Linked DNA regions of Homo sapiens. The protein of the gene in region 1 purifies or fractionates together with the protein of each later gene. This does not show direct contact. Each region holds a gene or a part of one and is shown in the gene's direction. Other genes may lie near its edges.

Region 1 (4,549 bases):
ATCAGAATTTGAATGAATTTTGATGCAAGAGGCATTCCAGAGGAGTAGAGAAGTATAGAAACAGAATTTAGTAGGACACATAAACTGATGGATTAAGTGACACCCATTTCTGTCAGTTTTCTTATTCATAAATATTGTTGCTCTGTCATTCAGATTTTAATAAAAAAAGTTTAAAGTAATTGACACATTTAAAAATATTCTTTAGAAAAGTCAAAACATCATTAAATAAAATAAATTAACCCTTGCATAAGACCAATATGTCTGTTGTTAAGTTTTCCTTTCTTGGAAAGACAGAAAACTCAAGTTTTTTTCAGCAGCACAGATATATTACATTTTCATTCCTGAATATTTGATTTCAAGAACTTTGAGAGAGAAAAAAATATTTTTACTGCAAGTGGTGATGAAAAACTTCACTGACATTGATAAAATTACTAGATATATTTCAGAACTGTGTCTTTTGGGCATTTGAAAAGCGTAAATATAACAGGGTTGAAAGCATTTGCCTCTGAAAGCAGAAATAATAAATTTCTTAATTACTTTATTCAGAATTATAATTAAGATTCTTTTTGCCCGTGTAAGATATTATAAAATGAAACTTCTTGTATAAAGGATTTTTCTGTAATAGTACTTTTCTGTTTTCTTAAATACAGAAACCACCACTCTCAGCCTGTGCAGTAGCAATAATTAAGGCATTCTATAGGTAATAATTTTGCCTGATGAGCCAAATTTGGTATTGAGCCTCATGAAAACAAATGTGGCCAAATTGAGGCCTGAGAATAGTTTCCATTTATGAAGCACTCATTCTCCTTAAGGTACTATTGCAAGCACTTACTATATTATAATTCACTCAACCACCGTATTACTATTAGGCCAAAGTTATAAAATTGGAACATGAGGGAGGGAGAGGTTAAACGATTTTCCCAAGTCATGTGGCTAGTGAGTAGGATAATAGGAATCTAAATGGAGAAATGTCTGATGTTGAAGCTAATGATCTCTAAATTCTAGTGATGACTAGATCTTCGGAGTTATAAACACCTCACAGATAGTTGATGCTTGACATTAGTGTCTAAATAAACCTTATTAAATCTCAAAATAATGAGAAAGAGAAGTAAGTTAAGTGTCAGAACTTAAATGGAACTAAAGTTGTCATTTAATAAAATATTAGTATACTCAGTAGTATGCAAATATTAAGGGCATTTTGAAATTCGGCTATTGATAATCATGTGGTTAGGGAAGAAATCACTACTCTGAGAGTCTACATTTAAGAAAACATTGCACGTGGGATCAACATTTATTGTTATTAACTATAAAGAGACGTAATGTGAGGCTTTGAAAGTCCATAGACATAAAAATACGTAAAAAAAGAATTAACATATGAATGAAAGAAAAGTTGTGAACTCATGGAATCGTACTTACACCTAAAGCCACCGGATGTCGCTGTCGTCCACAAAATAGCTTTTTAGAACAAAGGCATCAGCCAGTTTCTCAAGGACTAGGAAGTAGCGTCATTCTGAGATCTCAGCCATTTCGATAAAAAATAGATATAAGAAATAGGACAGAAAATGTCAGATCGTATGTGCGTTCTAGACCGCTGATTCGTCGATTTGTAAAACAAGAGAAGGATAAGATGGTTTCCAGATGTAGCTGCCTGGGGGTCCAGTGTCTGCTGCTCTCGCTTCTTCTCCTCGCAGCCTGGGAGGTGGGGAGCGGCCAGCTCCACTACTCAGTCTACGAGGAGGCCAGACACGGCACCTTCGTGGGCCGCATCGCGCAGGACCTGGGGCTGGAGCTGGCGGAGCTGGTGCAGCGCCTGTTCCGGGTGGCGTCCAAAAGACACGGGGACCTTCTGGAGGTAAATCTGCAGAATGGCATTTTGTTTGTGAATTCTCGGATTGACCGCGAGGAGCTGTGCGGGCGGAGCGTGGAGTGCAGCATCCACCTGGAGGTGATCGTGGACAGGCCGCTGCAGGTTTTCCATGTGGACGTGGAAGTGAAGGACATTAACGACAACCCGCCCAGGTTCTCCGTAACAGAACAAAAGCTCTCAATACCTGAATCCAGACTGCTTGACTCTCGATTTCCACTAGAAGGCGCATCTGATGCGGATGTTGGAGAGAACGCATTGCTTACTTACAAACTCAGTCCAAATGAGTATTTTGTTCTTGATATTATAAACAAAAAAGACAAAGACAAATTCCCAGTGCTTGTTCTGCGGAAGCTGCTGGATCGTGAAGAAAATCCTCAGCTAAAGTTGTTGTTGACAGCAACTGATGGAGGCAAACCTGAATTTACCGGATCTGTTTCTCTGCTGATCCTGGTGTTAGATGCCAATGATAACGCCCCTATCTTTGACAGACCGGTTTATGAAGTTAAGATGTATGAAAATCAAGTGAACCAAACATTAGTAATACGGCTCAACGCTTCTGATTCGGATGAAGGAATAAACAAGGAAATGATGTATTCATTTAGCTCTTTGGTCCCACCCACGATAAGAAGGAAATTTTGGATAAACGAAAGGACGGGAGAAATAAAAGTAAATGATGCTATTGACTTTGAGGACAGTAACACTTATGAAATTCATGTAGATGTTACAGATAAGGGAAACCCACCTATGGTTGGTCACTGCACGGTCCTAGTGGAACTACTGGATGAAAATGATAATTCACCTGAGGTGATTGTCACTTCTCTGTCTCTCCCAGTGAAAGAAGATGCTCAAGTGGGCACCGTCATTGCCCTAATCAGCGTTTCTGACCATGATTCAGGAGCCAACGGACAGGTCACCTGCTCTCTGACGCCTCACGTTCCGTTCAAGCTGGTGTCCACCTACAAGAATTACTACTCATTGGTGCTGGACAGCGCTCTGGACCGCGAGAGGGTGTCGGCCTATGAGCTGGTGGTGACCGCGCGGGACGGGGGCTCGCCTCCGCTGTGGGCCACGGCCAGCGTGTCTGTGGAGGTGGCCGACGTGAACGACAACGCGCCTGCGTTCGCGCAGTCCGAGTACACGGTGTTCGTGAAGGAGAACAACCCGCCAGGCTGCCACATCTTCACGGTGTCTGCGTGGGACGCGGACGCGCAGGAGAACGCCCTGGTGTCCTACTCTCTGGTGGAGCGGCGGTTGGGCGAGCGCTCGCTGTCGAGCTACGTGTCGGTGCACGCGGAGAGCGGCAAGGTGTACGCGCTGCAGCCGCTGGACCACGAGGAGCTGGAGCTGCTACAGTTCCAGGTGAGCGCGCGCGATGGGGGCGTGCCGCCTCTGGGCAGCAACTTGACGCTGCAGGTGTTCGTGCTGGACGAGAACGACAACGCTCCCGCGCTGCTGGCGTCTCCCGCTGGCAGCGCGGGCGGTGCAGTCAGTGAGCTGGTGCTGCGGTCGGTGGTTGCGGGTCACGTGGTGGCTAAGGTGCGCGCAGTGGACGCTGACTCTGGATACAACGCGTGGCTGTCGTATGAATTGCAGTCGGCGGCGGTTGGTGCACGCATCCCGTTTCGCGTGGGGCTGTACACGGGCGAGATCAGTACGACGCGCGCTCTGGATGAGACTGACTCGCCACGCCAGCGCCTACTGGTGCTGGTGAAGGACCATGGCGAGCCGTCGCTGACGGCCACGGCCACTGTGCTTGTGTCGCTTGTGGAGGGCAGCCAGGCACCCAAGGCCTCGTCGCGGGCTTCAGTGGGCGTGGCGCCCGAGGTGGCCCTGGTGGATGTCAACGTGTACCTGATCATCGCCATCTGCGCGGTGTCCAGCTTGCTGGTGCTCACGCTGCTGCTGTACACTGCACTGAGGTGCTCGGCGGCGCCCACCGAGGGCGCATGTGGGCCGGTGAAGCCCACGCTGGTGTGCTCTAGCGCGGTGGGGAGCTGGTCTTACTCGCAGCAGAGGCGGCAGAGGGTGTGTTCTGGGGAGGGCCTGCCCAAGGCGGACCTCATGGCCTTCAGCCCCAGCCTTCCACCATGCCCAATGGTAGATGTGGACGGGGAAGATCAGTCTATTGGAGGGGACCACTCTAGGAAGGTGGGTTATTACGTTTTCATTTTCCTTTTGTGCTTTATGAATAATATTTTCTCTTACCGCATTTTCTCAAATATGTATCAGAATATTTCATTTTTGTCTACATTCCATTTATGCTTGAATATTTCTAGTGATACCTTTGTAATATAATTTATTCCAGGAGTTTTAAAATTTTTTTATCCTACCCAGTGTGTCAGCCTTTGATTGGTACTTAAATTTTTTTAAATAACAATTTATTCTGAATACACTAATATTTTCCAATACAAATATGTGATATAGGTTGCAGTTCTGACGATTTACTTTCATAATCACTTTTCGTTACAAATATTTGTGAGATTAGTACTTCATGTTATTTCATTTCCAATCTAAATTTTGATTTGATTGTATTTGCATTACCAAAAAATTCCACTGATCTATATCTCTTCAGTGAAAATGTGTTTTCCTCCATGTGTAGAATATGTGTAGCGTACCACAGCTTATACTGCCATAGTAGATTTCAATGTTCAGTGATTACAGCTTTTTCTCAATAGTGCAGTA
Region 2 (3,814 bases), on another chromosome or scaffold:
CTGTAGTTCCAGCTACTCAGGAGGCTGAGGTGGGAGGACCACTTGAGCCCAGGAGATGGAGGCTGCAGTGAGCTATGATTGCACTACTCCAGCCTGGGCAACAGAGCAAGACCCTCTCTCTAGGTGGGGAAAAAGGTACATATCCAGTACATATCCTTTCACTTAGAACTTCTACTTCCAGGAATCTATTCTTAGTAAATAATCATGAGTGTGTACCAAGACTTAGCAATCATATGTTCTTACAGCATCGTTTATGATAGAGAAAAATTGGAAGCAACTTAAATGTCCATCAAAGAGAACTTGATAAGTAGGTCTTCACTAAGTGGAATGCTATGCAGCCATTTAAAATGATGATGTCAGAGAGTATGTGACAGCAGTGAGCAATGAACAAGTTTCGTTAGGCTGGAAAGGGCAGGTTTCTATGCAGCAATATGTATTACGCTGGCTTTTTAAAGTACATATGTGTATGTAGATGTGCTTAAACAACAGGCTAAAAGAACAGACATCAAAATGTTAATAATGCTTAACTATGGATGGCCGTATGATTGTTTATTAATTTTATGTTCTTTTTCCCCTCTCTGTATTTTCTAAACTTGCTTCAATGAGCATGTATGTTTTTAAATCCTTTTTAAAGAAGACCATAGAGCCAGGTGTGGTGGCTCACACCTGTAATCTCAACACTATAGGAGGCTAAGGCAGGAGGATCACTTGAGCCCACGAGTTCAAGGCTGCAGTGAGCTATGATCACACCACTGCACCCCAGCCTCAGCCACAGAGCGAGACACTGGCTCAAAAAATAATAATAATAAATAAATAAATAAAAATAAAGCAAGCCATCAAGTGTAAGGTTAAGAATCAGCACTCCCAGCTATACTCGTGTTTCTCCCTGCCCCCACCCTGGCGAGTGGCTTTGTCACTGTGGCAACCGAGGGTCTTCAGATGACATGTGCATCTCCCAGGGTGACGTGTGGTATGAATGGGGTTTTCTGACAAGGAACCATGAGATATGTCTTACATTGCTGATGAAGCCCTAACCCTGGGCTTATAAACGGATTATTTCTTTCTCATTCTTCTTACCAAGTAGACATGTGGCTACTGCCCAGAAGGTTACCCATTTACCTTCTCCAGGTTACCATGGTCCATGCGTATTCACAGATGATCCAGAACTCTCCTCTTTGCTCATTTCTGGCAGAGTCCGTCTCAGCTGATGAGTTAAAATGTGACATTTCCTCCCTCCCCCCGCCCCATGCATGATGATTTCTTCTTCAGTTATGCTCTTTCCCAAAGACATCAAAACAAGAGTGATTGTTTAGAAATTACCCTCGTCCTACATTTGCTCCCAATCTGTTTGATCTTTCCCTGATGTTATCAGTGATGTGCGTTTCTCCCGGGGTGCTTACGCCTTGTATTTGTGTCTTCCTCCGTGCCCAGTCCCGGCTGACGAGCCAGAGCGAGGCCATGGCCCTGCAGTCGATCCGGAACATGCGCGGGAACTCCCACTGTGTGGACTGCGAGACCCAGAGTAAGTGTGTGCGGTGGTAGCAGGGGCTGGCGCTGTGTAGCTGGAGACCACATGGTCCCACTAGGCCCGGGTTGCAGGGGACTCACATCTGTCCTGTTTGGCAGATAAGAGTTAACTGCTTTTAGGAAATTGAGATATTTTGTTTGGATTTTACCTTAACAGAGTGCCTTCCACACAAGCCTCACCCCTGGCTGCAGGGTGCGTTTCTGTGAGTCTTTCCTTGCCTTAGGCATCCGATGAGCAGCAGTCATACCTGAGGTGCAAAGGATTCAACCCCACACCCACAGCCTGTGCCAAATCTAGGAAGCCCAGGAATTCAAGACGAGCCTGGGCAACACAGGGAGAACCCGTCTCTACAGAAAATTAAAAATTAACTAGGCGTGGCAGCTGGCTTACTTTTTGCTTAATCAGTGATCACTTGTTGATTTTTTTTTTTTTTCATAAAAATAGAATATAATTGGTTCATTCCTGCCTAGAGATTCTTGGGTATTGTTTTTTTAAATTCACAATCATATGTTCTGGGTTTTGCCATCAAATGATGTCTTGTTTTTTTTTGGTCTTAAATCCATTACCCACTAAAGCCTCTGATTGAACTGATAGAAGTTGTAATTACTGCTTTGTGCCATCGAGTACCCCAGTTTTATTTCATGATTTCCGTTGTCTAATCCATACTATTACTTTCCCTTTGAAAAAGTCATTTTGTTGTTCATAATCTTGAGAGTAGGGACTTATTTTCATGGTTGCAGTCCCAGCCCAGAGACAGTATTGGAGACATTCAGTAAATTTCTTCCCTTCAGATTTTTTTTGTTAAGTAGTGTTTTGAAGAGAAGGAAGTTCAGTTCAAACAAGGTAAGAGGTGCTGGTACCAGGCTGGGTGCTGCCCAGGAGTCAAACGTGCATGGCGTGGTGGGTCCTGCCATCCTGAAGCCTGAAATGCACTGGACAAGGCACCAACCTGCTGACCATGGAGCTAAGCGCTGGGGAGAGCCATCGGGGGCATGCGGCGGTCTTGCCACCCATGCAGGAGCTGTCGTGTCAGCAGGGCTCTGGAGATGGGCAGGGTTTGTACAGGGAAGGGGCCGAAGGAATCACTGTGAGCAAAGGGAGTGGCTTGAGGAGAGCTTCTCTGGGTGGTTGTAGGATTAGAGATGCTTTTTGGGCTGGAAAACCAGTAGAAGCTAGTTGGAGTGTGAGTGCCAAGTGAAACTTTTTCCAGCTTTGTTCTTCATTTGTAAGCAGAGAGACATCATTGGAGTTTTAGAGCAGGAAGGAGATGGACCCTGAGCTCCACTTGGGGAGATGGATCTGGCCAGACCATTTTGAACATACTGGAATAGAGGCAAAGCAGGGAGGAGGCCAGCCAGGGTCGGCTTGGCCGGGAAGGGAGACAGGAGCCCAGGACTGCTCCAGACAAAAGGGAAAGGAAGCGCCCCCTCCAAGAGTCCACTCAGCAGCATAGCAGGCAGGGGAGAGATCAAAAGTCTGTCTGCGGCCTCTCTGGAAGCCTGTCCTGCGGGTGAGGGAAGGGGTTCTTCTCCAGGTATCTTGAGGTTCTTCTTTAAAGTACCTCCTTATGTTTGAATGTTTAAGTTTTACTTTCAAATGTGTGGTGAAATGAAGTTCGAAGAGAGAAGCAGTTATTTGAAGTGTGTTTCTATCAAAAAGTTTTAAAAGTAAGAGCTTTTTTAAAAGCACGAATCTGAGAAATATTAGAACATCCATTAAGGAAAATGCCTGCAGTTGTTTCCACCGTGCGTCTGAAGGTCGCTTTAAAAGGAAAGCCATCCGTGGCTTGCGGGGACCATGATACCTGGCAAATCGGAGGTCGCAGGTCCTGTCTGAGATGAGCTTGTGCATGTGAGTGCGGATGGGGGGTGGGAAAGGGAGGCCAGTGCAGGGGAGGTGTGGGCCAGTTTGTTCTGAGCAAGACCACCTGAGCAGATGGACAGGGACAAAGGGAAAAGGCAGAGTTTGACAATTCAGGAGAAAGAGGCGATACCAAGCACGCATTTGCTAAATGTGTGGTCTGTGTCAGCCCGGTGCCAAACCCTCCCATGCGCTGTCTTTTCATTCTGCAACCCTAGTAGTTGGTGCCCCTGTGGGCCCCACTTAAAGGGGAGGAATTGAGGAGCCTGAAGGGTCAAGTCATTTGTCTGAGGTCACAGAAATAGCAAGTCCCAAAGCAGGATTCAAACCCATCTGTTGTCCAGCCTGCTGTATTTTCTCAAGAATGGAAAGGCTCAGAAGATGTAGCACATTGGCAAGGATTTGTTAAGTAAAAATACCCAATTT

Evidence for each region.
Region 2: the proteins of PCDHA10 (region 1) and AGAP1 purify together in Homo sapiens (affinity purification with mass spectrometry, with the first as the bait; one large-scale study listed by BioGRID). This does not show direct contact.

The regions. Positions count from the first base shown.
Region 1 is NC_000005.10:140,854,422-140,858,970, forward strand, and holds the start of PCDHA10 (protocadherin alpha-10 isoform 1 precursor), read left to right. Parts: upstream 1-1,475; 5' UTR 1,476-1,627; coding exon 1,628-4,015; coding exon of another isoform or gene 4,016-4,162; exon of another isoform or gene 4,163-4,549.
Region 2 is NC_000002.12:236,039,320-236,043,133, forward strand, and holds part of AGAP1 (arf-GAP with GTPase, ANK repeat and PH domain-containing protein 1), read left to right. Parts: intron 1-1,431; coding exon 1,432-1,522; intron 1,523-3,814. UniProt on the Homo sapiens protein: GTPase-activating protein for ARF1 and, to a lesser extent, ARF5. Directly and specifically regulates the adapter protein 3 (AP-3)-dependent trafficking of proteins in the endosomal-lysosomal system.